4 linked regions of the Homo sapiens genome follow. The protein of the gene in region 2 purifies or fractionates together with the protein of the main gene of each other region. This does not show direct contact. Each region holds a gene or a part of one and is shown on either strand. Other genes may lie near its edges.

The links.
Region 1: the proteins of LRRTM3 (region 2) and SGPL1 purify together in Homo sapiens (co-immunoprecipitation; 2 studies listed by BioGRID and IntAct, with this or other methods). This does not show direct contact.
Region 3: the proteins of LRRTM3 (region 2) and PCYOX1 purify together in Homo sapiens (co-immunoprecipitation; 2 studies listed by BioGRID and IntAct, with this or other methods). This does not show direct contact.
Region 4: the proteins of LRRTM3 (region 2) and GPC4 purify together in Homo sapiens (co-immunoprecipitation; 2 studies listed by BioGRID and IntAct, with this or other methods). This does not show direct contact.

What each region holds. Positions count from the first base shown.
Region 1 is NC_000010.11:70,867,945-70,874,965, forward strand, and holds part of SGPL1 (sphingosine-1-phosphate lyase 1), read left to right. Parts: intron 1-400; coding exon 401-489; intron 490-1,847; coding exon 1,848-1,953; intron 1,954-3,103; coding exon 3,104-3,202; intron 3,203-3,892; coding exon 3,893-4,042; intron 4,043-5,406; coding exon 5,407-5,645; intron 5,646-7,021. UniProt on the Homo sapiens protein: Cleaves phosphorylated sphingoid bases (PSBs), such as sphingosine-1-phosphate, into fatty aldehydes and phosphoethanolamine. Elevates stress-induced ceramide production and apoptosis.
Region 2 is NC_000010.11:66,921,033-66,929,041, reverse strand, and holds the start of LRRTM3 (leucine-rich repeat transmembrane neuronal protein 3 precursor), read right to left. Parts: upstream 3,007-8,009; 5' UTR 2,459-3,006; coding exon 2,455-2,458; intron 2,122-2,454; coding exon 590-2,121; intron 1-589. UniProt on the Homo sapiens protein: Exhibits a limited synaptogenic activity in vitro, restricted to excitatory presynaptic differentiation. May play a role in the development and maintenance of the vertebrate nervous system.
Region 3 is NC_000002.12:70,253,368-70,261,137, forward strand, and holds the start of PCYOX1 (prenylcysteine oxidase 1 precursor), read left to right. Parts: upstream 1-4,769; 5' UTR 4,770-4,797; coding exon 4,798-4,909; intron 4,910-5,992; coding exon 5,993-6,199; intron 6,200-7,770. UniProt on the Homo sapiens protein: Prenylcysteine oxidase that cleaves the thioether bond of prenyl-L-cysteines, such as farnesylcysteine and geranylgeranylcysteine. Only active against free prenylcysteines and not prenylcysteine residues within prenylated proteins or peptides.
Region 4 is NC_000023.11:133,307,469-133,314,489, forward strand, and holds part of GPC4 (glypican-4 precursor), read right to left. Parts: intron 3,956-7,021; coding exon 3,790-3,955; intron 1-3,789. UniProt on the Homo sapiens protein: Cell surface proteoglycan that bears heparan sulfate. May be involved in the development of kidney tubules and of the central nervous system.

The sequences.
Region 1 (7,021 bases), 3.9 Mb from region 2:
ATTGTAATCACAATTTCACATTCTTTAACAGGTATTGAAAATTTAAATTAAAATTCTGATATTTTTGAATGGCATAAAATGCCCTATCTTATCTGAAAATTGAAAAATTAATACAGAAATGTAAATGGATTGTGAATAGGTGGGATCTGGCCAAGTGTGCATTTGTCTAGGCAGTGCTGAGTTTCTGCTCATTATTTAGTAGCTTTCATTCTTCACCTGAGCCAAAATTAGGCTTAGCCAATAAAGCCAAATTTTCCTTCTGGAAGACATGGCAGTGTCTGCCTTGCAGCATGCATCCAAGACCTTATCTGTTTCTGTATCAAACATTGTCAAGATCAGGGCATGAAGAGCCGGGGCATTCCTGACTCCCCCAACAGATGGCATCTCTTCTTTATTATAGGTGACTTCTGGGGGAACAGAAAGCATACTGATGGCCTGCAAAGCATATCGGGATCTGGCCTTTGAGAAGGGGATCAAAACTCCAGAAATGTATGTATGTGTGGCTGTTTTGTCCCCTTTTGGATTTGTCTGTCTGGAGTACAGCTTTATGAAACTAAAGCAGATAATCCATTTTCCTGCTGCTTCTCTTCCTCTGGTAATTCTGGTCCCCTTTCCCCCTGTCCTAGCCCCTCTGCCCTTATCCTTTTACATTCAGTAAAATTCTAAATGGATCAGCCAGTTATTTTTAAAGATCATTCCCATCCCGCCCCACCCCCAGATCATGCATAGTATATACTACAAGCAAAAATAAGATCCTTTTTCCAAAAGTGAGAGTTTGAGGACTACATCTTTGAATCCTGTGATATTTGCAAATTATTTGGAGCCTAAAGAAACCTCTCTAGGTACTTTAGTTCTGCTTACCTTAGAAAGTTACTTAATATTATAGGCTGCCTCAGGGTACTCTCTGGGAAAACTTTAGTGTGAGGGCTGTTTTCTGGGAGGAAGAATAAAAATATCTTTTTGAGATTTACCCACATTGCCTTCCTTGGACATAAATTTGATGTTTAGTTACATTATTTTTTCCTAGACTGTCCCCTTGTACAGTATGTTTATCCTACATCTTAATATTTTTACTGCAAGTATTACTTGACAATGGGGATTTATTGCATATGGTCTCATGCTGTGGTTCATATGTAGCATAAGAGAATAAACCAGGCTGCCATTCTTTCTTCATATGTCGATCTTTGGTGCTTGGTACTTCCTCAGTAGTAGAGATTTTTCTCCTTAGAGGGAACAGATTCGTTGTATGAATGGAGTAGTTGAGGAAAGTCTAAAGCAAATACCCGTGACCTCATTTTCTCTTTCAACACTATTTGAAATACTATTTCCAAATGTGTAGGAGAAATGGGGATTTTAGTTTCTTCAGGTTTGTTGTCTTTCAGAGTTGGAAGGGGCCACTGAGCTGATGCTTGGCCGCTGTGTGAACATTTCTGCTTGAACATGTGTTGTGCCGGGAAGCCTTCTTCTCATTCTCACTGAGGTGCCTGTCTTTGGTAGGCAACCGTTAGCCAGCTCTGCCTTGTGTTGCTCTCATCCAAAGTCTCTGTCCCCCAGCTTTCCGCCTGCCAGCCTAGCTTTATGCTTTGGATCCCTCACTGTGGGATCACTTCTGAGTCCTCTTCCTATTGCCAGAATGATTTCCTAAATAGGAGGGAAGTTTCTGCAGAAAATCAGTTGGCCTCTTTTTGGGTGTGCTTAAAAAGAAAAGTAGAGCAGTCTAAACACTTAAATTTTTAATTTGGGGAAAAATAATCAGAACTTACTCCCGGTAATTTAGATTAGCTGCTAATGGTGTTTTCTATTATTTTGGCCTGAGTTACATTATTCTCCTCTTCCCTGTCATTTAGTGTGGCTCCCCAAAGTGCCCATGCTGCATTTAACAAAGCAGCCAGTTACTTTGGGATGAAGATTGTGCGGGTCCCATTGACGAAGATGATGGAGGTGGATGTGCGGGTGAGTCCCTCTGGAGGGCCCACTGTCTGTGCTGGGCCCTGACAGCAGAAGGGCCCTCCTGTTGACTAGCCGTTTCCAGTCAGATGGGTCTGACTGCCTTTGATTGTGGCAGCCAGAATATGAAAAACTGCATTGATAGTGGTGATTGACTGCAGCTTCAGTCTTTTCATAGGTTCATGAATTCTGAAAGGGAGGTGATCTAGTCACTAACTTGGGACTTGAGAGACACTGGTTTTGCGGTCAGCGCCATCACTTTTTCTTTCTTTTCTCTATTTGTAAAATGAACATGGACTCACTTCCCCTAAGACTCTTACCATGGCCCGGGCATGGTGGCTCACATCTGTAATCCCAGCACTTTGGGAAGCCGAGGAGGGAGGATTACTTGAACCCTTGAGCCCAGGAGTTTGCGACCAGTCTGAGCAACATAGTGAGACCCCATCTCTACACAAAATTTAAAAAAGTAGCTGGACATGGTGGCATGCACCTGTAGTCCTAGCTACTCGGGAGGCTGGGGTGGGAGGATCACTTGAGCCCCAGGAGGTTGATGCTGCAGTGAGCTGTGTTCACACCACTGTACTCCAGCTTGGGTGACAGAGCAAGACCCTGTCTCAAAAAAAAAAAAAAGACTCTCACTGTGGTTTAGATTGGCTTAAATTAATACCATTGTCATTATGATAGTGATTATTTTTATGCCTCACATTTGTGTAGAGGAGTTTTCTAGTTTCAGTGTTCTGTCAGAATCCCATTTGAGCTTTATGACATTCCAGAGAGGTTGATGAAGCTGTTATATTATTGTAGTTCACAGATAAGGAACAGACTGAAGTAGCATACTCAGGGTTTCACTGCTGGTACGTTGTGGGGCTGGGGCTCACATTTGGCTCTTTGGCCTCTTAGCTCAATATTATTTTCGCCCCCACAGCGATTCTGTTCTTATTTTGTGCTCTCAGACTATTCTCCAAATGGACTTACCTGGAGTCACCTGTGTCCTGTCACCGTGGTGGGATGCAGTCTTCTCCCAGTTGGAGTGGTGAAGGAGGGGGTACTGGTGGAACTGGAACTCTAAGCTAGCAGCCCAAATTGCTCTTGGCAGCAGAAGAGAAGAGTAATTGTGACATAGATTCTCATTTTCCTTTAAACTTTAAATCCCTAGGCAATGAGAAGAGCTATCTCCAGGAACACTGCCATGCTCGTCTGTTCTACCCCACAGTTTCCTCATGGTGTAATAGATCCTGTCCCTGAAGTGGCCAAGGTATATGAGAGAAATGGGCTGCTAAGGCAGGCAAATGGATATTTTAAAACAAAGCCTAATGGGGCAGTACTTGGCAAATAGAAGCGATTTTTTTTTTGTTTTTGACCACAGTAGTGATAAGTAGCTCTCATCAGCCCTAGGGGAAGCCCTGCAGCTCAGTTGCAAGCCTTTAAAAGTTGCTAGTCTCTGCTGTGGGGGAAGATAGTACAAGGCTGAGGCCTTTTAAACTGGAAATTCTGAAATAGGATTGCCTTCTAGATTGAGATCTGGAAATAATCTGCATGTAGGAATGTGCCCACCAAAAGGGTGATATTCCACATGCTGCCCCTCAGCGCCTCCCTTTCCCTCACGCCTCATCCTGCAGTGACTGAGGCAGGACCTTTCCCTTGTGCGAGAGGCAGCCTAAATCAGAGCTCTACTCATTTCCTGCTTGATACCGCAGAGCGTTTGAGGTCATGCATATTTAAATATAAAATTGATACCATATTTCAGATGAATTATTTTGAAGGGAAAATACATTTGAAAGATAAATTTTGTTGGGAATGTTAAAAATAGCCATTTTTTAAAAACATGGGAGGCATAATACAAAATAGCCTTGTGTTTATAGCCCATCTTTCCACCCATGTCTTGCAGTTTTTATTATAGGGCTATAAAGGAAATTCTCTTATGTTCTTTGTTTTTTGGAACAAGCTGGCTGTCAAATACAAAATACCCCTTCATGTCGACGCTTGTCTGGGAGGCTTCCTCATCGTCTTTATGGAGAAAGCAGGATACCCACTGGAGCACCCATTTGATTTCCGGGTGAAAGGTGTAACCAGCATTTCAGCTGACACCCATAAGGTGAGCTAAGGAGGAGATCAAGTGTTACCAGTTGATTATTTTGACTATTATTGATAAAATAAATTGGTAGCTTCCCCGCAAAGTATAAAATTAACTATAGAATTCTCATCAGATGCTTGTTTTAAACTCTCTCTTTGCCGTCACCAGATCAGCTGGTTCAGGTGATGGGGTATAGTGGTAGAGGTGACAAGCAGTAGTGAAAATGAACCTGTTACCTTTATCTCAAATTGGCTAAGAGAATTTCTGTATCCACTGACTGTGTGTAACTAGAACATGCTAGTGTAGTGGCCCTTGTTAAAAAAGCTCCCTGAAGCCTTGAGCTGATTTGAGGTGGAGGGTAGAGGAGTGTGAGGGTTGGTAGTGGAGTTCCCATGCTGGTAGATAACATTAGAGCTGCTGTGCAACTGGGCTCCTGAGCGTACATGACGGGAAAATGTTGACGGAAGAGTCCTTTGGAAAATGGGAAGAACCTGTGTGCTCAGGAACATTCAGCATTTGAGATGGCCACGCCTGCCACCCTTGGTGGACTGAGACAAAGTCTAGATCAGTTGATAACGCTATTGAATATACATCCAGATGTGGAAGAAGTATTAGCAGCCTCAGGAATGTGTACCTTGTTTTGATTGCATTTTCAGAGCTTGTTTTAAACTCAAGTATATTAAAGACTTGTTTTTCAAAATCGGTGTGATCTGCAGCCGATTTTCAGTCAGCATCTGTTTTTTCCTTACCATCCAGATAGCTCCTGTGTCCTTTTCCCATAACCATCCATTTCTGGATGGTTCAGGTAATGAAATTAGTTCCACGTTAGTTTTAATAAGAGTTAATTAGGGGGTCAGATGTTCTATAAGGAAACCAGTTACATAGTTAATTTTAAAGCTGGATTAAGTAGCTTTTAGTTTCTGAGCACCATTATGTTCTCATAAGCATAATATTCTTAGTAATACTAAGCAAAAAAAGATGGGAAGGGGGTCAGATGGTGATTTTAACTTGAAGTGACAAATTCCATCCTTTCCTGGCTTCCATTGCAAACTTACCCTTGCTTTCATCCTGACATATGGTCTCCAGAGAAATATTTTAAATAAGGTAAACCACATGCTGGGCAAGAGAGGGAGTAAACCGATTAACTGGGCGCTGTTCTTCCCTGGGTCTCAGATTCCTCATTCCTAACAGAGAGAATTTAAACTCCATCCCTTAAGTTCCTACTATCCTTTAGCATTTTAAGTTTGAATCCTTAATGTGAGTGGGAAACATAACAGAGAAACTGAGAAATAAATAGGATTTCCTTTGCATGATGAGAGTTCTGGGACAAGGTCTGCCAGACAGAACTATACTCTCACTTTTCTTGTCTGCTACTTCTTCCACAGTATGGCTATGCCCCAAAAGGCTCATCATTGGTGTTGTATAGTGACAAGAAGTACAGGAACTATCAGTTCTTCGTCGATACAGATTGGCAGGGTGGCATCTATGCTTCCCCAACCATCGCAGGCTCACGGCCTGGTGGCATTAGCGCAGCCTGTTGGGCTGCCTTGATGCACTTCGGTGAGAACGGCTATGTTGAAGCTACCAAACAGATCATCAAAACTGCTCGCTTCCTCAAGTCAGAGTATGTGTGGAAGACTGGGGTTCTGCCTTGTCTATTGCTTTTTTGTCCTAGTAGGCTCAAGGCACCTGCCTGGCTAAGTATCCATAGCCCTAGCCCACCTGTTGTCTCCTGCGATATAGAGGGCTTAGGGCAGCAGCTTAGGGCTTAGGCCAGACCAGCTGGCCTGGGAGAAGAAGCTCCCTTTCTCTGCCCTGACTTTTGGAGGGTCTTTGAGACGGGGGCCTCATTTGTAGTTTATCTCATCTCTATGGATGTCTTAATAACTGGCAGCTCTTACCCTAAGGCTAATGTACAATTTAATGGTTAGGACAGTGATTCCCAAACTTGAGCATGCATTCTAATCACCTGAAGGACTTGTTAAAACACAGGTAGCTGGGCCCACCCCTAGAGTTTCTGATTCAGTGGAACTGGGATGGGCTCTAAAAATTTCCATTTCTGGAGATACTGATGCTACTGCTCCAGGAATCATACTTGAAGAATCATTGGAATAAGAAAATAATTGGAAATGGGCCAGAAGGAATGAGGAAAGGAGGGCAATGAAATCTTGGGTTAAGCCAAGGCCAGAACAGGCTGCATGCTTTGTCTAATGTATCTGTTAACATCTTATCTGCCCATCTCTCTATGTGTCACTTGGATTGGGGAGGCTCTTTAAGTATATTGAGGGGGAAGGAAAGCTGCCTGCAGGCATTTCTCATTTGAGAAAGATCCTTGGCCAGGCACGGTGGCTCCGGCCTGTAATCCCAGCACTTTGGGAGGCCAAGGCAAAAGGATCGCTTCAGCTCAGGAATTAAAGACCAACCGGAGCAACATAGTGAGACATTATCTCTACAACAAATTTAAAAATTAGCCATGAGGCCGGGCGCGGTGACTCATCCCTGTAATCCCAGCACTTTGGGAGGCTGAGGCGGGTGGATCACCTGAGGTCCAGAGTTCAAGACCAGCCTGACCAACAGGGAGAACCCCGTCTCTACTAAAAATACAAAATTAGCCGGGCGTGGTGGCGCATGCCTGTAATCCCAGCTACTCAGGAGGCTGAGGCAGGAGAATTGCTTGAACCCGGGAGGCAGAGGTTGCGGTGAGTTGAGATGGCACCATTGCACTCAAGCCTGGGCAACAAGAACGAAACTCCATCTCAAAAATAAAAAATAAATAAAAATAAAAATTAGCCACATGTGGTGGTGTGCACCTTTGGTCCCAGCTACACAGGAGGCTTAAGGCAAGAGGACTGCTTGAACAGCCCAGGAATTTGAGGTTACAGTGAGCTATGATCACACCACTGCACTCTAGCCTGGGTGACAGAGCAAGACCCTGTCTCAAATAAATAAGCAAACAAATAAATAAAAATTAGATATATATAAAAGGTCCTCCTATAGCTC
Region 2 (8,009 bases):
CCTCTGGAAACTGCTCAGGGTGCTGCTTTAACCTAGCACCATCTTTTGATAGTTTCCTGCAATTTTCTTTTCTAAGTCAGGCATTGGTTTAAAGGCTCTGCCTGTCTGTAAAATGTTCCCATAACTGAGTCATCTCCAAGAATCAGCTCAAGCTCCGAGCACCTGGAATCATTCACCTCTTTCCTTGATTTGCCAGTGAGGTGCAAACCTTCTATAACTGTAGATTTGGTCCCACCAGGAGGCTAACAGCGAATGTGGGGGATTACTTATGAAAGAAGTTTTATCTTAAAACAAATGCGACATTAATGGAATCAGTAAAGGGTCTTATACAATAGGTATTATATTAAACCGGAGTTCAAGCTTCACATTGATTGTGGTATTTAAATTTCAATGGGTTGATTATGTATGAGAGGAAAATGACCAGTATTATGAATGCACTAAAACGGACAAGGAAGGATCTTGCCAGCAAAGTGAGAGGGAGAGGGAAGGGGAGGGGGGGCATCGCGTTCCCTTGATAGTCACCAGAGTTCAATAAAGCACCACTTATTTCCCAGCTTTTAAGAGCTCTTTTTATCACAATGGTTCATACCTCACACTCCCTGGAGCCCGATTTGTTATAGGTGCAGGGTCCCGTCCCATTCAGCAGCATCTCGCTGGTCTCCGTGTTGGTGGGTTTATAATCTACATAAAATTCCTGGGTGCTGGGAGTCATTTGCTTTAGGGACTGTCTTTTCTTTTTCCTGTGCCTTCGCATGAGGGAGCGCTGCTGCAGCTGCTTCATGCTCGCAGGGTACCGCTTCCATGACACGTAGATAACCAGCAGGATGACGAGCACGGACAGGAAAAGCGCCACGCTGCCCGCGATGATTTTATGGAAAGAGATGTGCTCGGCGTCAGCATCGGTCTCTGGGCCGGGCTCTGTGGCTCCCACCGTCGGGGGCAAAGGGGGTTTGCTCTCATGCTTCGGCCTGGGGAGCTTGGGCTTAAACGTCGGCTTTGGGAGAGCCCTGGCCAGATCAAACCTCTCTGTAGTACTTTTGCCACAGATGCTGTAGTTCTTCACTGCATCGATCACATTTACTCCTTGCAGCTCTTTGGGACTGGCACAGATAATTGTATTCTCCCTTAGACCTTTAAAACTTTTCAGCCAGTTTACAAGGGAGCAAATATTTCTGCTGCATTCCCATATATTCCCAGCAAGACTGATGTCATTGAGGGATATCCAAGAATCCAAAATCTCTTGACCAATAAATGTGAGCTTGTTGGAATCCAGGTTGAGGCGCTGCAGATTCGGGACACACTGGAAAACACTGGGTCCACTGAAAGCTTCGATCTCATTGCCTGATAAATCAAGCCTTTGTAAGGAGCTCCAGGTCCAGGACATGGTCTGTCCTATGACACTGATTTTATTCCACTGCAAGTAAAGGTTCTGAAGGCTGACCAACCTTGGAAAAAGGGCCAGGTTGAGCTTGGAAAATTGATTGTGCTCCAGGTGAAGTTCTTTGAGTCTGATCATGCCAGCAAAGACATTCCTGGCTAAACTTCGGATCCGGTTATATCCCAGGTCCAAAAGTTCCAGGTTGCGGCAGTCTTGGAATATTCGCACAGGGATGGTTCTCAGGGAGTTAGACCGTAAATGTAAACTCAGCAGCTTCCGCAAGCCCCGAAACTGTTCAGATCCCAGAGAATGCAGCTGATTATAGGACAGATCCAAGTTCCGTAAATTTGTCACAGGTCTGAAGGTATTGTTAAGAAAATAGGAGATTCTATTGGAACTAAGAATCAGCTCTTTGAGTCTGCGTATTCCATTAAAAGCATTTTCGTCAATATTGCTGATATGGTTATGGTCAAGGTATAGCCAGGTGAGCTGGTTGAGCCCTTTAAATTGATTATACTTAAGTTTTTGAAGGCTGTTATAGCGAAGGGACAAACCTAAGCAACCAGCAGATATACTTGAGGGTATCTCCTGTAATTTCTGAGATTCACAATATACCATTTTGCCTTCACACCTACAGCCCTTAGGGCATCCTCGTTCGGCAGAAGAAAGCATTGTCAGTAAGACAGTGGGGGCTATAACCAGTGCTACAGCTGATCCGCTCAGTAGCCTAATTACATTGAAACCTGGAAATAAAAACAACTTAGAAAAGTTATCCCCCCAAAAAAGAATTAATCCTTAATCAAGCAAAAATAGGCATATATTTTTCATTTTTAAAAATTTAAATCTAAATAACACTTAACATCACATATTATCTCTTTGTAATTAAAGAGAATTGTCTTTAGTGTTTTGTTTTTTTAAATAGTTAAACAAGGAAACATGCCACTAAGCAAATAAATTCATAGTCTTAGAGCAGAGCAAGGTAATCTCTAAAATAATTAAGGCAGAATTATTACACACACTAGAGGTTTTTTGTTTTTTGTTTTTAAGAAGGAAAGAAGAAAAATGACAAAACATACCCATCCTTTGTATTGTTCAAAGGTCGTCCTTAGGTCTTTTGCTTTGGCTTAGGGGCCAGTTGCATGACAGCCCCTGTCAGCTGCACTGTAGTGAGTCAGGGCTCGCTGACACCCAGGAAGAAAAATTGGACCCCTTGGGAGATGGACCGATTTTGGAACATTATTCTTTGCCAGCCACGCAGAACACTCCAAGAACAAATAAATCCCAACACCGCATTCGCAGCAAAACATCAAAATCTTCCTAGGTAATAGGATCTTCATGGATATTACGTTTTTGCATCTTTACAGTTTTTTGGGGGGTGGGGAGGGGGCGGTTAAAAAAAAAACTGGATCCTACAATTTCTTCTTATCGAAAAACATGATGTATTCTTCCAGGCAATTTGGGGCTACCTGAGCTGCCACATCTGTATTCCATACCCCAGCAGTTCCCGTGATGAGCACCCAGTTCAGCCACAGAGCTGCGTTGGAGCCCAGAAGGCAGGAGAGCCCCGTACCGCGCACACGCTCAGCTCACTTCTGCAGACTGTCATTCTGAAAGCTGCTCGGACTGTTGCTTTGGTTTCAGTGAATGCAGTCTTATGTAAAGCTGCCCCCAGTGGTGAAGAACATTATGGGCATGTGCAGAAATGTCTCTCTTTTATCTTGCAAATGAGCAGGCTCTCTGCTGGAAAATGAATGATTCTTTTGGGTGGCTCAGTAGGAACTGAATGGTCACCGTGATCAATAACTAGCAACATTTTCTGTGATTTCCAAGTCTTGTTTTACAATTTGGCAACGTCTTTATTGTCTGTGTCCACTTAATTGCTAAACATGTGCTGCCCAGAGTTTTTCTGGAGCTTGACATTAAGTTCACAGACCGAACGTCAATTTTTCTTAACCTCAACGCAGGCTTTAAACTGAAATTTATAAAATGAATTATTGAGCTTTTCACAGAGAAGCATTAACTGCCTGCCCATTTGACCTCTTGGAGTCACAGTGATTATATTATGCAAGGTGTCTCAGGATGTTAGAACACAAACATTTTGGAATAGAGGGGATGACTGATGACAAGTGAATTAATGTGTCCAATAGCCTTTCCGGTTTTCTCACAGACGATATAATTGATTTTATGGCTATAGTTTCGTTTGTTGTTTTGGTTGTTGTAATTCTCTTTTAATTAGAAGGGAAATAAACCATTTTTAGTGTTAGGATACGAATCAAGAGATCATTTGGTTCATACTTTATTGATGTTGCTGCTATTTATTACACTAATAATATTTATGGAGCACTTTCTAAGTGCTTTAAATGGGCTACGTTGTTTTCTCTTTAAACAATAGTATGATGTGGGTCCTATTATAACCTCTCTTTTAAAGATGAGGAAACAGACTTGGGGAGGTAACTTTCTCAAGGTCATACAGCAAGCGAGTGCTAGAGCTGAGCTTCAGAAGCGAGTCATTCTTATGCCGAACCACTAACCACTAGATGATCCTGTTCAACAACATTGTTATCTTCATTTAAAAAAGAAGTCAGTGAAAATGAAGCCGATTAAAGGATTGGGGCAAGGAAGCTGTGATTAGCAAATTCTTGCTTGTTCTATTAGAATTGCCTAAATTTCTTTTGGTCTGAGGTTCCTAAAGAAGTATAAAAACTAAGGCAGCGTAGTTTAGTGATTAACAGCATAGATTTTGGCACCTAGATTCCAACTCCTGGCTACAATTTACCAGCTATGTAACCTTAAGCGCGTTACTTACCTTCCCTATGCCTCAGTTTTCTCATCTGCAAAACGGGCATAAAAACAAAAACTCACTTCATGTTTTGAGAATTAAGTCATTTTAATATCTGTATGTTACTTAGAACAGTGTGTTGCATGCAATAAGCCTGTGTAAGATATTTGAATAATATTAACTTTATTTGTACTTGCTAGGATTACGTACTGAATATTGACTATACTGACCTTCATTAACTCACAAAGAACAACTTTAGTGAGCATTTTTAAATATTGTACATGGTGGATTTCTGAGATTTACTCAGTCTTGCCTTCTTTGATGAGATAACTTCCTTTATGTTCATCATCTGAACTTTATCTTTAAAATAAATCTTCTGGTTCTGTGGATCATGACTAATAATGTTCGATTCTTTTCATCTCCAAAGTAGAACATAATAACATCTGCCATGTAGAGGCATTTTATTTAAAAATAATGGTATTCTTGAAAAAGTTTGCCTTGTTGTTTTTTGTTAGGTGAACTGTCTGTGGAAAACCGTGGAGAGCTTTCACATTCTCCAAGGATGAGATGTTTGATAAAGGCTAGTAATGACAATCAAAAGGGGTCCTACAGATATAGTACAATGGATATTACCAATTCCTTGGGCAGTATGTTCTTAATAGGGCAGTGCTTTCCCCCAGAGTTACCTAAGCTGTGAATGCACATGAAACATCCAGTGAGTTTCTTAAAAAGATAGACTGCCCAATCCCTCCCCCAGGATTCTCATTCTAGGGGGATGGAAGAGTGTGTGCTTTTCAATAGTCTCTGATGAAATAAGTTTAAGAAACTCACTGTGAAGGAATGATTAAAAATAATATTTTCTCCTAGTAGGAAGAGAGGGTTTGCACACTTATAATACTGAGATGTAAGTTCCACAAGGACAAAGACAATGTTTTGTCTACTTCATTTTTCCTAATATCTACAACAGCACTTGGCACATTGCAGACATGCAATAAATAGCTATTGAAAAAAATATGTTTTTATATCAGTCACAAGTACAATGGATATAGTATAACTGATTATGTAATGTTCAACATTTGTACATGGGATTGAGTCCTGAAAATTTCCTCAGTCAGTGAGACTGGAAACAATTTTGGAGAAAGTATTCTTAAAGGAGGTATATACAAAGACAAAAACTAGAAAGTGAGAAAACTTAGTTGATCAGAAAGTGATCTTTACTTTTCACAGATATCTTGTCTTCATAGTTAAACTACAAATTTCATGAGAACAGTAAATATGCTTTTGACTATTCTCCTTTGCACAGCACAGAAGGGTAATACTGAACCCTTATCATTTAATATCCCAAATGGGCTTGACAACTTGTATCTCTCAAAAACAGACTAATGAGAATTATATTGATAACTTCTCTCTCACACCTCTGTTGCTTGAAAGGCTCTGAGTTTTCCCCTCACTCTCCCACGTAGTCATTGAGACATCTGTTTTGCCCAAGAGCTGCAGAGAGCCACTCCAGGAGGCTGGAGGACCCATTAACTTTGTGCTTCTTGCTCATCATACTTTACTTCCCATTGACAGAAGAACAGAGGAACCCACTGAGAATGTGGGCTCTCACTTTGCTTTTCCTGGGATAAATCTTCTTGAATTATTTACGGTGAATATTATTCTCTGCTGTGTTACACACATTGCTCTTAGTTTTCAGACATTTTTCTTTTATCTTGGTTCCTGATCTTATCTTACTGCATAGTTCTGACTTTACACCTACCCTTTGGATCTTATGATTAATATTTATTTAGTCTTAATACTAACAACTGAGGGTATAAAATATTAGAGTGAGTAAATAAGACCTAGTATTGGCTAGCACAATGGGGTGACTATAGTCAATAATGAATTAATTGTGCATTTAAAAATAACTAAAAGTATAATTGGATTGTTTTTTATACAAAGCGTAAATGCTTAAGGGCATGGATACCACACTTACCCTTATGTGATTATTACACATTGCATGCCTATATCAAAACATCTCATGTACCCCATAAACATGCACACTTACTATGTACCCACAAAAATAAAAAATAAAATAAAAATAAAACAAAACTATATGACAGGAATGATGTGCTACAACAAAAATTGCTTTGGTAGCAATGTATTGATTGACAAGGAAAAATGTTCATAATGAAATAATATTAAGGAAAAAAATACTGACCATCAATCTCTTTCTCAACAGTAATCAGTAGCCACTCTTGGACTGAGTCAGCCTCCAGGAACTGTGTATGGCCCCTACTTTGGCACGACCCCTTAAGTCGGCATCACAACCAGGTCTGATCTGGTTCAGGATAATAAATTGTTTGAAGAGGGAAGATTATCCATGAGGCTAGTTGAGAAATCCAAAACAAAATAATGTGATTCTAAGCCACACTGAATACTTGAGGCTGCAGAAGTTACTGCAAAGACATAGAGTAGTCCCTCAAGAGAAAAAGAAAAGACTGTGTTCTAAAAGATTTTAGTAATTTGCCTGTATACTTTTTAAAAGTTTTTTCTCCTTTTACTTGTCGACTATAGCGAGCTGATTATTTCTGATTTGCCTTTCAGCAGAAGCAAAATTATATTGCATTATGTATTTAGAAACTAGCAACTTCTTTTGCACTTAATATCGCATACAGAACAAACCGTAAACTACCTGACGAGTTAAATATCCCCAATGCATCCAGGGCCTTAATGATTTATACAATTATAAAAATAGTGTCATGTATCTAAAGACTTTTTATTTTATTGTGCTTATAGGACTTCAAATAGCTAAACATATTTTGTTTAAATTGGGTAAATAAATCAAATCTCAGTTTGGCAATACTGCCAAATTTTAGTCCAATATGAAACTGAGTTGCCAGATATAAACTTAGAAATTCATAACTGAAAGAGAATGGACTGATATCTTAACAGTTGTTGACTTCAGATATTTTATTTATTTTACAAATATTTAATTTGAATAACCATTGTGTGCTAAACACTGTTCCAGACACTGGGAATACATCTGTGTGCAAAATAAAGGCCTGTACCCTTGTGAAGATTACATTCTAAAGGGATAAGACAGACAATTAAAAATAAACATATACAGTATATTAGTAGGTCATATGTACTATGAAAAAAAAGAAAAATATAAGGAAGATTGGGAGTGCAAGGTATGAGGTGGGCTGAGTTTTAAATAGGATGGTTAGGGCCATTAAGAAACTGGCCTGAGCAAACCTTGAAGGATATGAGCTTGTGAGACTTAAATGTATATATGGGGAGTGGCCAGTGCAAAGGCCTAATGTGGAAGCAGATCATGTGTTCCATGAACAACAAGGAGGCCAATGAGTCTAGAATGGAGAGACCAAGTGATAGAATAATTGGAGATGGAGGTCATGGAGGGCTTTGGATGACATTCTAAGAATACTGGCTTTATTATGGAGAAAACGGGGAGCTAACTGGAGATTTTTGTGCAGAGTTAGTATGTGATCAAATAACCTATTAAAAGGATCACTGCTGTGGATCGGATGTTCTCATTTACCGTCCCCAAAAGCCATATATTGAAACCCCAATTCCCAATGTGATGGTATTTGGAGATAGAGCATTTGTGAGGTAATTAGGTCATGGTATTGGAGCCCTCATGACAGATCAGTGGGATTATAAGGATAAAAAGAGACAGAAATGAGAGAGCTTGCTTCTTCTCTCTCTCTGCTACAAGAGAAGGCAGCTATTAAGAAGCCAGAAATCAGGCTGTCTTTGACATCAGGTCTTCTGTTACCTTCATTTTGGACTTCCCAGCCATTAGAACTGTGAGAAATAAATGCTTACTGTTTAAACCACCCAGGATATAGT
Region 3 (7,770 bases), on a different chromosome or scaffold from region 2:
GGGACTACAGGTGCACACCACCATGCCAGGCTAATTTTTTTGTATTTTTTCGTAGAAACGGGGTTTCGCCATTTTGCTCAGGCTGGTCTCGAACCCTGGGCTCAAATCGTCCGCCTGCCCTAGCCTCCCAAAGTGCTGGGATTACAGGTGTGAGCCACTGAGCCCAGCCTCTTTCTCCAAGTTTAACTTTATTTTGTATCCAACCTATTTTCTTCTCATCTATATTGTTCTTCATGTTCATGTACTAGTTATTTTTGTTTGTTTGTTTGGGTGAAGTATTGTAATTACAGAAATGAGACTTTTTTTTTTTAAATGAAAGGCCTCACATATTTATTACTGAACCCAGCCAACCAATGCGTTCATAACAGATTCGGAGAGGAAAACACGTCGAACTCTCCAGATAGGGGTGACATTTTCAGCTTGATATGGTAACGTGATCGTGACCTTCAGACAGCATAAATATGTGTGCCATCTCATGTACAATTCCTTATAGACCCAGCTTGGTTCTTCTCCAATGTCTCCTTTTGGAGTTGTACCTGATTTTATTTCCAGTTTTCATCCGAATCCACTGGGGAATGGGACGATTTTGCTTTTGTTTCTTGGGCAGGAATCACTTAATCCTGAAAGTCTTGTGAGAAGACATGGTGAGGGTGGAGTCAAGAACACACCACGATGGCAGAGAAAGGAAAAGAGGCATGAGATCATTTTATACCCATCATGCAACCACAAGCTTTTCTCAACTGATAATACTAGGACATTAGTTATAGACCCATTTTTTTTTTTTTTGAGACGGAGTCTCACTCTGTCGCCCAGGTTGGAGTGCAGTGGCGTAATCTTGGCTCACTGCAGCCTCTGCCTCCTGGGTTCAAGCAATTGTCCTGTCTCAGCGTTCCTGAGTAGCTGGGATTACAGGTGTGCGCTACCACGCCTGGCTGATTTTTATATTTTTAGTAGTAGAGACAGGGTTTCACCATGTTGACCAGCCTGGTCTCAAATTCCTGACCTCAGGTGATCTGCCTGCTTCAGCCTCCCAAAGTGCTGGGATTACAGGTGTGAGCCACTGCGCCAAGCTCCAACATTCTTTTTTTGTAATTTTTTTTTTTTTTGAGATCAGCCTGTCAGGTTGGAGTGCAGTGGTGCAATCTCAGCTCACTGCAACCTTGGCCTCCCAAGTTCAAGTGATTCTCCTGCCTCAACCTCCCAAGTAGGTGGGATTACAGGCATGCATCACCACGCCCAGCTAATTTTTGTATTCTTAGTAGAGGCAGAGTTTTGCCACGTTGGCCAGGCTGGTCTTGAACTCCTGACCTCAGATATTCTGCCTGCCTTGGTCTCCCAGAGTGCTGGGATTACAGGCGTGAGCCACCGTGCCTGGCTTCCTTTTAATGCATGCATAATGTTCTATTGTATGGTATGTTGGGGAGAAAAAAAGAGTTTTCCTCTACCCTTCCGAGGTTTTGGTTGTGATAGACCCCTGTAACAAAAGACAGATTAACAAGAAGAAAACAAACAGGACCAGGCATGGTGGCTCATGCCTGTAATCCCAACACTTTGGGAGCCCAGGAGTTCCAGACCAGCCTGGGCAATATGGCAAAAAACCATCTCTACAAAAAATGTAAAAATTAGCTGGGCATGGTAGTGGATGCCTGTGGTCCCAGGTACTCTACTCTGGTGGCTGAGGTGGGTGGATCGCTTGAGCCCAGGAGCGAGAGGTTGCAGTGAGCCGTGATAGTGCCATTGCACTTCAGCCTGGGTGACAGAGCGAAGCCATCTCAAAATAAATAAAAGAAAGAAAGAAAAAAAGAAAAACAGAAATTTAAAAACATGTACGTCACGTATTCAAAAGAGAGACCAGGGAAATGAGCAAATCTCCAAGAGGTAGCTTTGAATTCAGGATTATACAGCATCTTCAAAAAAGAACAGTATATGTTTAGAGAAGTGTTAAGAGAACCGGGCACAGTGACTCACGCCTGTAATTCCAGCACTTTGGGAGGCCGAGGTGGGCGGATCACCTGAGGTCGGGAGTTCGAGACCAGCCTAACCAACACGGAGAAACCCCATCTCTACTAAAAATACAAAATTAGCTGGGTGTGGTGGCGCTTCCCTATAATCCCAGCTACTCAGGAGGCTGAGGCAGGAGAATTGCTTGAACCCGAGAGGCGGACGTTGCCGTGAGACTGCGCCATTGCACTCCAGCCTGGGCAACAAGAGCGAAACTTCGTCTCAAAAAAAAAAAAAAAAAGAAAGAAAGAAAAAAAAAGAGAAGTGTTAAGAGAAGGAAAATGATTTTGAGTCTCTAGGGGTGGCAAATTATGGGAAGGCAAATACGCGATAGAAAAAGGCTCATTAATGAAGTTTGTCATGTAGATTCCTGGCTGATAAAGGTTTGTCAAAAGACAAAATTACAACTAATTTAGTTTAAAGAGCATAATTGGCTTTTAGTTGCGATTGTAGAATTGTGCAACACCTCATTTTATAAAATCGAATGAGTGTTCCTATGAGTTGAGTGGAGGAGGTTGGCTTTCAGAAAGGGCTGAAGAAAGCAGAAACAGAAAAGTGCATTGGTTGTTTCGAGGTTACTTTCCTTGAAAAGTTTAAAGCAGAGGGTATTTCCTTATCATGTCACTTCAAACTGGTCTGTCGGGAATTTGGCTATTATTTTTCTTTCTCCTGATTTCTTAGAAAGTCAGATCGACAACTTAGTTTTGACCTTGTGATGTGGAACATGAGTGACTTGAGTGACTCCATTTTGGTTTAGTCTGTTGGGCCTAGTCTAGTGCAGGAGCTCAGTCCAAACCAATGGCTTCCTATGAATTTTATTTAACAGGCGTAAAATTGTCTTTAGTGATTAACCTTTGTCCTTCCAGGCAGTGTGGGAAGAGGGATACCTTTGCCTTTTAAAATTTATGTCCTGCTTTACTTCAGACATTACACTAAATAGGAGTGTTGAGTATAAAAATGAATTCACAATTAAAGTTGTTAAATTATTTGTATATAACTTTAAAAGGAGTTTTTTTGAAGCTTTGTAATTACATTGAAAGTATATTTGTTTCCTTGAAAACAATTTTTTGAAAAGTGAATAATAATATAATACAGCTTTCAAATTACTTTATGCTGTTACTTTATTTCTATTGTATTCACATGTGAAAGTATGTGATCAGTTGTTGCTGTATCAGAGATATTAGAGATTCTTTATTAGTTGGGCATTCTTTATGACCTTTTCTATAAAAGAGTAAGGACATTAAAATGTAAGATGCATGATAAAAATATAAGTAGCGAGGCTCATTGTAGTTAGCCTAAATTAAGTAATGTTTAAGGTAGGTGTTCATGGCCAGGCGCGGTGGCTCACACCTGTAATCCCAGCACTTTGTGAGGCCGAGGCGGGTGGATCATGAGGTCAGGAGATCGAGACCATCCTGGCTGACACACTGAAACCTCGTCTCTACTAAAAATACACAAAATTAGCCAGGCACGGTGGCGGGTGCCTGTAGTCCCAGCTACAGGCTGAGGCAGAAGAATTGCTTGAACCCGGGACGTAGAGTTTGCAGTGAGCTGAGATCGCACCACTGCACTCCAGACTGGGCAACAGAGCGAGACTCCGTCTCAAAAAAAAAAAAAAAAAGTAAGTGTTCAGAGTAATACTTTTCTACATTATACTGAGAGAAATTATAAATTATAAAGTATATCAAATTATATTATTTTACTAATTTTACTTTTATGTAATAAAATGCAATATATTTAAAAATTGTTAAAAAAATAAAATTTATGTCCTGCTTTTAGGCAAATGGGGAAGGCGGAGAACTTTCCACCCACGTATCTACATCGTATCTACATCTTCTCAATTGTCTTCGGCTTGAAATAATCCTTAGGCTAAAGAGGCGTATTTTGGGGTGGCACATTCTGGTGTCCTTACAGGTACACTACTTTTATTCATGTCTGTTACTACTATTACACCCCCTTCACCTTGGGCCACCCCATCCTCAGTCTCCCTCATTTTTCTTTACAGTTAGCACCATTTACCCATTCACGGAGAACCTTACAGTTCTCGCAACAGGGTGATCACTCAGTAAGTACTGTTGTCCCTTTGGTCTGTTTCTGGCAGCGATTAGCTGTGCGCATTCTTTGAGAGGAGCGACGGAGGGAACAGAAGAGGGTACTAGTGAAGAACTAAGGTGCTTCACCCAAATAGATAGGGAAGGAGGAGGAGAGCTGAGGCGAGCCTCAGCTTCTGCCTTTTTTTTTTTTTTTTTTTTTTTGAGACGGAGTCTGGCTCTGTCTCCCAGGCTGGAGTGCAGTGGCGCAATCTCGGCTCACTGCAAGCTCCGCCTCCCGGGTTCACGCCATTCTCCTGCCTCAGCCTCCCGAGTAGCTGGGACTACAGGCGCCCGCCACTATGCCGAGCTAAATTTTTGTATTTTTAGTAGAGACGGGGTTTCACCGTGTTAGCCAGGATGGTCTCGATCTCCTGACCTCATGATCCACCCACCTCGGCCTCCCAAAGTGCTGGGATTACAGGCTTGAGCCACCGCGCCCGGCCAGCTTCTGCCTTCGATGTCTTCTGAAGGAGGGTGGGCTTCGAGGCGGCAGGATGTGCTTAGGGCACTGAGTGGCCCAGAGTGGGGAGCTCCTGCAGGGTTGAGAGGACCGGCGGGGCGAGGTCGGGGCGGGGCTCGCAGGACCTGGGCGGGGCTCGCAGGGGCTGGGCGGCCTGGGGGCGGGGCTGGGCGGAGCGCGCAGCCGCGCAGCGGTGGGAGGACTGCGGGGCTCTTGAGGCCAGCTGCAGAGCTTGTGGAGGCCATGGGGCGCGTCGTCGCGGAGCTCGTCTCCTCGCTGCTGGGGTTGTGGCTGTTGCTGTGCAGCTGCGGATGCCCCGAGGGCGCCGAGCTGCGTGCTCCGCCAGATAAAATCGGTAGGCGAGAAGGGGGCGGCGCGGGAAGGTGCTGGAGCGCGCCCCGCGCCGGGCGGCCGCTGCGCAGTGCGCCCAGATCCCACAGCCGCGACGCAGTCCAGCGGTGCAGGCCGAGCCAGCTGCGCAGGTCGCGCTTTCCCCCATTCACACTTCAGGGCGGCTTTCAGCTCTGGTCGGAATAGGACTGTGCATTCCCAGGCGTGGAGAGGTGCCCACTTGAGGAATGGGCGTGGACGGGGACAGGGGCGGGCGGGCAGGCAGGCGCCTAGCGTACCTGTAGCCCCTGTCTCTTAGGTGTGGGGCTCCGGGGAGGCCTAGGTTTCTCTATCTTCCCGTTGAACACTGACCGTGAAGACTCCAGTGTTCTGGCTTGACCTGGGGCGCCCGGCCAGATTAACAGGCTCACGCAGGCACAGCACAGGGAGGAGTGCAAACAAGTTGACCCTGCCTGCTTCCCTTGGGAGGCTGAACCGCCTTCCCCCAGCTCCGCTTTGCTGAGGTCGGCCTGCTCTCAGAGGCCCTTGGCTTGCACAGTTTCTCCGCCTAGGACTAACACAGCTGCAGAAAGAATCTGTTCTCTTTCCACTGTCAAGAGCTCCAGTGTCAGGAGCCTTGGCTCTTTGCTTCCTGTCTCCCTCCCGCCCCCCTTTAAAGTTGTGTTCTTCGGTATCATTAACCTATCTACATTGAATCTAGACACAACAAAGCTAGGCATAAATGGCCGTCACTTTATTAAAAATGCGTGCTGGAAAGGTCCACCTCTAATGTGCCCGTGAGTTGGGCATCTGGAAGGGTGTGCAGGCCCCTTGGTTCCTCCATAAAGACCTGTGAGAATCTTTGGGCATCTGGAAAAAAAATCGAGTTAATGTCAATATGTTAATTAATCTACTGCTTTTGTCTGGGAACAGTGTCTGTCCAGATTCAGGGAGTTAGACCTTCGCTGCAGGTGTCACTCTTCCCCCACCAAATTGTTGGTAATAGCTTTGAGTAACAACCTCTGCTATTGATGGTCTTTCAAAAACAAAACAACTCACAGAGCTGGTAAAAGGGGAAAATATAATCTTCTGTTTTTTTCCCTCATAGCGATTATTGGAGCCGGAATTGGTGGCACTTCAGCAGCCTATTACCTGCGGCAGAAATTTGGGAAAGATGTGAAGATAGACCTGTTTGAAAGAGAAGAGGTCGGGGGCCGCCTGGCTACCATGATGGTGCAGGGGCAAGAATACGAGGCAGGAGGTTCTGTCATCCATCCTTTAAATCTGCACATGAAACGTTTTGTCAAAGACCTGGGTATGTAATTTTGGTCTTGGAGCTCACCAGATTACTGTGTGACATCCCCGGATATTTTTATCAGATGGAGAACTGAAATTTCTGCCTTGTTAATTGCCTTACAGAGACGTTGGTAAAACTGTTTTCCTCACTTTCTTGTTAGTTGGTACTGCCTGAGTTAGGAGCAGTTCTGCTGTAATGGGACACTAGTTGTCTGTATCTTCAGTTATCTGGAATTACAGCCATGGGGTGGGGGTGGGAATGGCTGCCATTGTCTTTTTTTTTCTTTTGAGGAGTTTCGCTCTTGTCGCTCAGGCTGGAGTGCAATGGTGCGATCTTGGCTCACTGCAACCTCTGCCTCCCGGGTTCAAGCGATTCTCCTGCCTTAGCCTCCTGAGTAGCTGGGATTACAGGTGCCTGCCACCACGCCCAGCTAATTTTTGTATTTTCAGTAGTGACGGGGTTTCACCATGTTGGCCAGCTGGTCTTGAACTCCTGACCTCAGGTGATCCGCCTGCCTTGGCCTTCCAAAGTGCTGGGATTACAGGGGTGAGCCACCGTGCCCGGCCTCTGTTGTCTGTTCTTAAAATTCTGGGTTTGTGTTAAAGAATCAGAGAAGGTTTGGAGATAGTCATCTCATTGTGATCATTTTGCAGCTGAGTAAATGAGACCCAGAGACTTGAATTGTCTGGCTCAAAGTCACTCACATATGGCCATGGCCAGGGTCAGTGGCTCATGCCTGTAATCCCAGCACTTTGGGAGGCCGAGGCAGAGGATCACTTGAGCCCAGGAGTTAGAAACCAGTCTGGGCAACATAGTGAGATCCTGTCTTTACTAAAAATAAAAAAGTTAGCCTGGTGTGATGGCACAAACCTGTAGTCCCAGCTTCTTGGGAGGCAGAGGCAGGAGGATCCCTTGAGCCTGGGAGATAGAAGCTGCAGTGAGCCTTGCATGCCACTGCACTCCAGCCTGGGCAACAAAGTGAGACCCTATCAAAACAAACCACCACCAACAAAACAAACTCCGTCACACAGCTGTGGATGCAGACACGTGCCTAGAACTTGGGATGTGCAACTGCTGCCCTGACAGCAGAGGAGCTGGATAGGTCATGGGGAAAGTCTGACAGGCCTCTGGAGGCCCTTTCGGCAGGGAGTATTTTGTAACTTTGGCCTCCTTCCAGTTATCTGAAATATCCAGTTTTGCAAAATAGGATTCTCACAGGAATGGAAGTGCCTCAGCTGCCTTCCACATCCTCTGTAGATGCTGCCTCTGCTTCCGTTTCCTCCACGAGGGCGAAGGTATACCCAGAACAAATTATGCCACGAAGATGCATGTCTGACATCTTTGTTTTTAAATTGAATTCAGTTGGTACTCTGGCTTTTTTCCTTTGACTATCCAGTTTTTTTAGACTTTTAGTCTAAAAATAGCCAGGTAAAAATATATCTACTTTTGATATATTAATATTTACATGATCATCTGACCCATCGCCTAGCAAATCTGCTTTTGGACAGTGTAGTGAAAGTATAGTGTTTCACACTGTTCCAAAGATAGAGCTCCTTTATGTGTCTCCTGAGAACTGAGGGAAGCCCCAA
Region 4 (7,021 bases), on a different chromosome or scaffold from region 2:
AAAACAGTAATAACAAATGAAGTTTCAGAATGCATTGTGGTAAGCGCCAATCAAGTGATGCTTCTAACTCTAAGTAAGGGCTGAAAGCATGAATATACCATTGTACTACAGGAGAGAAAAAAAATGCTTTTGATGTGCTAGCAAAAGGAGACTTTTGTAAACAAGTGGAGCACAACTTAAATGTGTTCATCATTGTCAAATCATCAGGGCTGCCACGTACAGAAAGCACATTCCTTCGTAAGCTGAGAAGAAATCACCTGCTCCCAATAAAAATATTATGAATAGACAGAAAATAAACATCTAAAATGCAGACGTTTAAATAACAACAACAACAACAACAACAAAACCCAGTGCATTTTGTAACTCCTTATTCCCCTAGTGGCAAGGAATGGCCAGATCACTAATGTGTTTGTGAAAGACTGAAAGGAAACATAAACCCCAATTCTTCTGGCTGTTTGGCGTCTTTGTAAACTCTGAGCCAGCCGGCTATACACAAGAGCCTGGGAATGGAGGGGGAAGCTGGGCCTTTGTTGGGGCCGGTGCCATGGTGTTGTGTGTTGCGCAGCTGAAGAATGCAACTGAAGAGCATTCTGCCTGCACTCTGCAGCCCGGGAGCCAAAGCTGCCTCTAACCCCTGGAGGAAGTCATGATTGGCTATCAATTGGCTCTTCTGTAACAGCAGCCAGCCCTGATAAGAAGCCTCAAGAGAAAGCCAAAGATGATTGGTTTGGAGTTTGGGTTTTCTTCTGGCTGATACGAGCCACGGAGGCCCTTGTTTGCGGGATATCTGACTGGCTCCTGCCTCCTGCCAGGACCTGGCTGGTGTCCCCGCCAGCAATCCCAATACTAAATTCCCACTGGCAGCAACATGCGACATTAATAGGGTTGGCCCTGAGTCAAATGAGTGTTAACACAGCTACAGTATGTGATGGAGAACAAGTTGCATAGCATAATTTATGATTCTCCAGAAACTGACTTTTGTTGGTGGGGGCAAGGGAGGTATTTGGTTTATATTTCCAAGTGAAGGTTTCATATAAACCAGCGTCTTATAAAACCAAGTTCTAAGGTGTTTTAACTATTTGGATCCATCCTGATAAAAGGCTGACAAGACTTCAACATTTACTAAAGGGTCTCAATTCATGGCCAGTTGCAGATGCAGTTAAGAGAGGAGAGGAAGAGCATGGCAACAAGAAGACGGATTTGGAAAACCAGTTCATCCTTAGTCTCTTAAAGGGTCTAGTCCAACTGCATTATTTCAGTGCTCAAGACACTGGCACTGAGTTTCCCCCCATACCCCCAGCAACAAAGCATCCCCTTCTCACTAGGGAAAGCGATTCCTTTTGCATTGTGCTGCCAATAATCAGAAACCCACATCTTCAGCCTCCCGACCTGACTGGAAGAACAAAAGGCAGTTTCCCGACTTAACCCCAAGATCTGATTTAAAGAAGGGGGAAAAAGCCCTTGACCATTCATTAGCTGCAGTCATTTAAAGGGGAAAGAAAAATTCCTTGCAAACAGAAAAAAAAAAAAAGAGAGAGAGACAAGAAATAAAAAAAGAATTTACAGCAGAGGCATGTAAATTGGGACTGAATTCTACAACCACAAAGCAGATTAATTAAACCCTTGTGAAAAATTCATGAAAAAGCACTGGAGATTAACAATGTCTATTACTCCTGGTCTTTTATATCTGCTTATTAGAAATAAAGAATAGTATACCCATTAAAAACAAAGTTTAGATACAATTATATACCTCATCCCTCCAAAAAGTTATCACTTAAAATAACTAGGGAAAAATCGATTCAGAAATCCTATCAACTTCTACTTGGGTTTGTTTCTTCAAAGATAACAAATGTAATTTTAAAAATGCCCAACAAGAACAACAACAGCAACTTAAGTCCTCTTTGTTTTCGAGTAACTGATTTAAAACATCAATAAAGAAAGCCAGAGTGTGGTTTTGATTTGATATGGACCTGTAAACTCCAGGAAAAACACGTAGGAGCATTTGTATTTTAATATAAGGATATGAGTTTAGTTATAGTTGCTGCTAGACATGTTAGAGTATCAAAATAGTGGCAAGGGCCATGCCCTTCTGCATTCCATTCCCAATGTGTCTGTAGAAAAGTCAGCAGAATTCGATCACTGTCACCATACACTTTTTTGTACCATATGGCAAATTCTACTACCTTGCCTGGAGAAACAGTGAATTATAGGGGCAATTGAAAAGGATCACCAACTTTCTTTAAAAATTCAATTTTGCAAAAGTGAACTGCAAACTTGACATTTGGGTGTGGGGATGAGTGTGGGATTAAAGAGAGAGAGAGAAAACAAAAACAGCGACTTTAGATCTGGAAATTCTATGGGTTTTTACTTCCATGAGAAATATTTTGAATCAACAATTTCTCCCATGGCTTCATTCTGGGCATGATGTGCCATTTGGCCTGTATGTCTTTGCTGGTCTTATGCCTTCCCTTTCATGAGATTCTGCTTTTCTGTGTGTAGAAGATTTTTTCAGGTCTTCTAGCTTTGAGCTATTTAGGCTACAATTGTGCTGAAGTGCTTAATATTCACATCTTTTTTTATCCCCCTGTGTCAGTGTTCTTAAGAATCTGTTGGAGCCAATTTATTGATGCACTTTCAAACGGAGTTAATATGGTAATTAGCTCTCACACAGACTAAAAAGCATTCCCCAACATTAACACCCCTCACCTCCCCCCAAAAAACCAAGCCAGAATACTGCATACATGTTCCCATGATTTGGACAAATAAGTGAAAAACAGGTGCTTATAAAGACACTCAAATTCGGCAATTATGCAAAGGTGACTAGGGTGGGGAAAAATGTGAGTTTCTTTTTGTGAGCTGTTAGTATGTGTGTGCGGTCCTACTAATACTCAGCATAAGGAACTTCAACACTGGTTACTGTTGCTTCAGGCATCAAGGTAATTGACAACTGGACATTTAAATTCTCCTTAATTTGTCCTTTCCCCAAAATCATAACTAACCCTCTCTGCAATTGGCCACTTCATTTACATTGCTGTCTGGGTTCTGAGAATGGTTTTCTAGGTGGAATATATATGCAGGAATATGTATCCCTTAAATTCTCAGGGCTAAAGTCCTTCCACTCTCACCAGAGCAGACTACTACTGCTAAATGGTGTACAGAAACAGAATCCCTGAATTTCTCAATCAGATTTCACCTGATCCAAATAACAAATGCGTATCTGGCCGGTTTGCAGAAGATTTAGTTGCAGTGTAATAGATATAACATTTTAAAAGCCACTTTTACAACTCCATGAGGACTGTACTCCAGCATTTACATGGATACAAGCCTATAATCATAAACACAACTGACTTTCAGGCGGGAAATATCAAAAAGACACTTTCTCAGTGAGTGGCTCATGCCTATAATCCCAGGGCTTTTGGGGGGCTGAGGGTGAGAGGATCGCTTGAACCCAGGAGTTTCAGGTTACACAGAGCTATGATTGTGCTGCTATACTCCAGCCTAGGTGACAGAAAGAGACTCTGTCTCCAAGAAAAAGGCATTTTCTCATTATTAAAACCTGGCAGCCACTGTATCTATTACCTTCAGAAATGCCACCATTAGTTTGAGGGAACATTCACTTGCAGTAATGTTTTTACTATTCTCAAAGTAGTTGAGCGTAGTCAGGATTCTGACAAACACTAAATAGCAAACACTTAAACAAACAAATTTCATAGCTGCCAATTACAACATTCCTTGTGACTGGAAGCTAAGCTATCTCCAGCAACACAAATATGTTAACCACTTGCTCACCTATGAAATTGTTCCATTCAAAATCGAGATCCCCTTGGTTGGCCAAACAGCCTCTCATGATGTTTGAGCAGTAGTTGTAACATGGCTTCACAGTCACGAGACCCCGGCAGTGGGAGCAGTAGATCATCTTCAACAGGGCATGGGTACACTGGGCTGTGGGGTTTACCTAATGTGTGAAAAGAAAAAAAGACAGTAGTGGCGGGGCTAAAATAGAGACAGAAATTGCTTCTATCACATTGACACTGAAGGCTTGGCCATGAACTTAAGAATGAGTTGTGATTGATCACAATTAGTAAGCCTGGACTGCCTCCTGAAGACATAGATTAGATAAAAGATACATGTTGGGACAGGGGAGAGGAGGGAGATGACCCAAAACAAACAAGGTGCACCAACTCCCACCCTGTAAACACCCATTCCTCCCCCACCCCCTTCCCTCCTGGAGTCTCTCTCTCACACACACATAAATTGCTCAATTATCTCAAAATCCTTTTACAAATAACTATGCAGGGTGAGCCATGAGATGCAGTGGAGGAGACTATCTTCATGTGCCCACCATGCACGTCCTGCTAATAGCCTCAACCATCAGTGTTTGTCTTTGCCAGACTGGAACAGAAGCACATCTTCTTCTGCATTACATTGACTACAAGGCTGTCCTTTGAACCCTAACCCCAAATTAAGGTTTAGAAGGGTACCTACGGTGTCTTCTGTTCTGTGCCAAGAGCTGTGCAGAAGGCAAAGTTAATATATTCTACAAGGCAGAATATGAGTAATCTTAAACTTAGGGGGTGTGTGAAGGTTTTCCAAGGCTTGGGAGTACTAAAGCACAGAGTGTTCACAGAACACTTGATGAAAGAGGTGGGGCTTTGGTTAAATTTTCGAGAAAGGGGCTGGACTTAAGTGGTCAAACAAAGGGAGAGCATCCTGAGTTAAGTTCAATGAAATGAACAAAACCTGTAGGAGAGTACAGGACATGTCACTGCATCTCAGAATGGGGTTGGGGAATTGCGGGAAATAAGGTCAGGTGCACAGGAGTATGCGTGTGGCCAGAATTTAGAGGGGCTTAAACATCAGGCAGAAACTGGGATACCAGTTGCCAGGCACGGTGGCTCACGCCTGTAATCTCAGCATTTTGGGAGGCCGAAGTGGGCGGATCACAAGGTCAGGAGTTCGAGACCAGCCTTGCCAGCATGGTGAAACCCCGTTTCTACTAAAAATACAAAAATTAGCCGGGCATGGTGGTGTGTGCCTGTAGTCCCAGCTACTCAGGAGGCTGAGGCAGAAGAATTGCTTGAACCTGGGAGACGGAGGTTGCAGCGAGCCGAGATCTCACCACTACACTCCAGCCTGTGTGACAGAGTGAGACTCTGTCTCAAAAGAAAGAAAGAAAGGAAGAAAGGAAGAAGGAAAGGAAAGGAAAGGAAGAAAGAAAAAGAAAGAAAGGAAGAAAGGAGAAACAAACAAACAGGGACACCATATGGCAGGACACATGGGGCTATGACTGGAAGTTTGTGAGGAAGGAAAGGAAGAAAGACAGAAACATTACCCAAGTCAGATTGGGCTGGCTGTCCTCTCCAGAGAAATGGGACTTCATTTCATCTAGTTTTATAAAGTGAAATTATTTGGGGTGTAGAAGAGCTGATTCCATCCGGTCACTTGTTTTCCTCAATGCTTAGAAAGGATTGGGGCTAGGTATAGCATTCTAGCAGCTAATTAAAAGTTCCTGTCTCCTCTTTCTCTCTGCCCCACCCTCCTCTTTTGGAGTCAGTATCAGAGGATTAGTGCATTCTTCTGTGTAAGTACCCACCAGTTCTGCTAACACAGACTTTTGGAGGCAGATACCACCACAGGGAAGAGATGCTGGGATGCAGGGCAGCCCGGCAATGCACTTCACCTGCTCTGGAGTGTTACTTTGGATATCACTTATCAGCAGTGCCCTTAGGAACAGGAACAGGGGATTAGTGGTGTCAGGAGAAAAAAAACAGTCAGGCTCCTACGTGATGCATGTGCACATCCATTCCCCTCATCCCAAACAAGGCTCTAGCCTAAAAGGGGGGAATACGTGTAACAATAAAATGGTAATTGTATACACTGCCCTACCAAGAATTAAGATTTTTCCACAGTTTTAACCATTCCCAAATGTTTTCCTAGGCACTAAATTAGTCCTAACTATGTATTAATGTACAGTAAAATTTTGGCTAACCAATATACCCTGGAGGAATGGCCTTTTCTGGATAGCCAGATTTGCTGGACAGCTGAAAGTTCATTCCTTTAAAGTCACAGATTGTTAAGACTTCCCTACATGTCCCCCTCTCCTTTTGTAAAGGAGCAAACAGGACTGGAGGGGGGAGGTGGCCTGAGAAGCATAGGATCACAGAAGTCTTAGAGTTGGAAGGGACCAGAGAGATCACTGAGTGTTGCTCTCACATTTGATAGATAAGAAAAACCAAGCCAAAGCCAAAGAGATTAAGCAACTTGCTGACAGTCACCTCACAACATCGGATTCCAGTACTATACCTTATCAAGCATTTGTGATGAAAAGATTTCCCAGATGTATCACGTTTCCCTGCCAGATGACAGGAAACTGTAATCTTAGGCACTGGTTATTTCCTACTTTAGTTTTAGTTGGGTTCCACATTGATGAGACTGCAAAATGGCTAGATTTTAAAGAGGTAAAAGTTATGCAAGTGGCTATGAAATGAAAAATCACTGAATAGCACGTGGCATTTGTTGAATATTATGCTTAAGAGGAGACAATGCCCTCGTAAGAAGAAACGTAGAAAGCTAAGGGGTCAACAAATAGTTACTGAGCACCTACTATGTGCCAGGGATTATTCTGGAATGCATTTGAATTTAGGTAACAAGGCAAGTTAAGAATTTCTATATTAGAATACAAAACCTGTTCTACAAAATACAAAGCAATTCCAATGTGGTACAGGACTTTAGGAAATGAGCAAAAATTTTAGACCCAAAATAGTTATATTCAGAAAACACTTCTTTTTTCAAAGAAGTCCTTTCTCATTCTTTTAAAAAATAACTCTAGGAAGTGGTTCATTGTATTCTTAGTTCAATTGCAAGTCAAATCATTTATGCAACAGACCTTGTAGTACCCTCCCCTAAAATAGGCTGATGGAGGCTCAAGTTTTAAAAAGAGACCAAACTAAATGACACAGTAGAGTTTTATTAAGGGAAATTATGATGCTGAGTTTGGCAGAGTTCTTCCATTTCATTATTT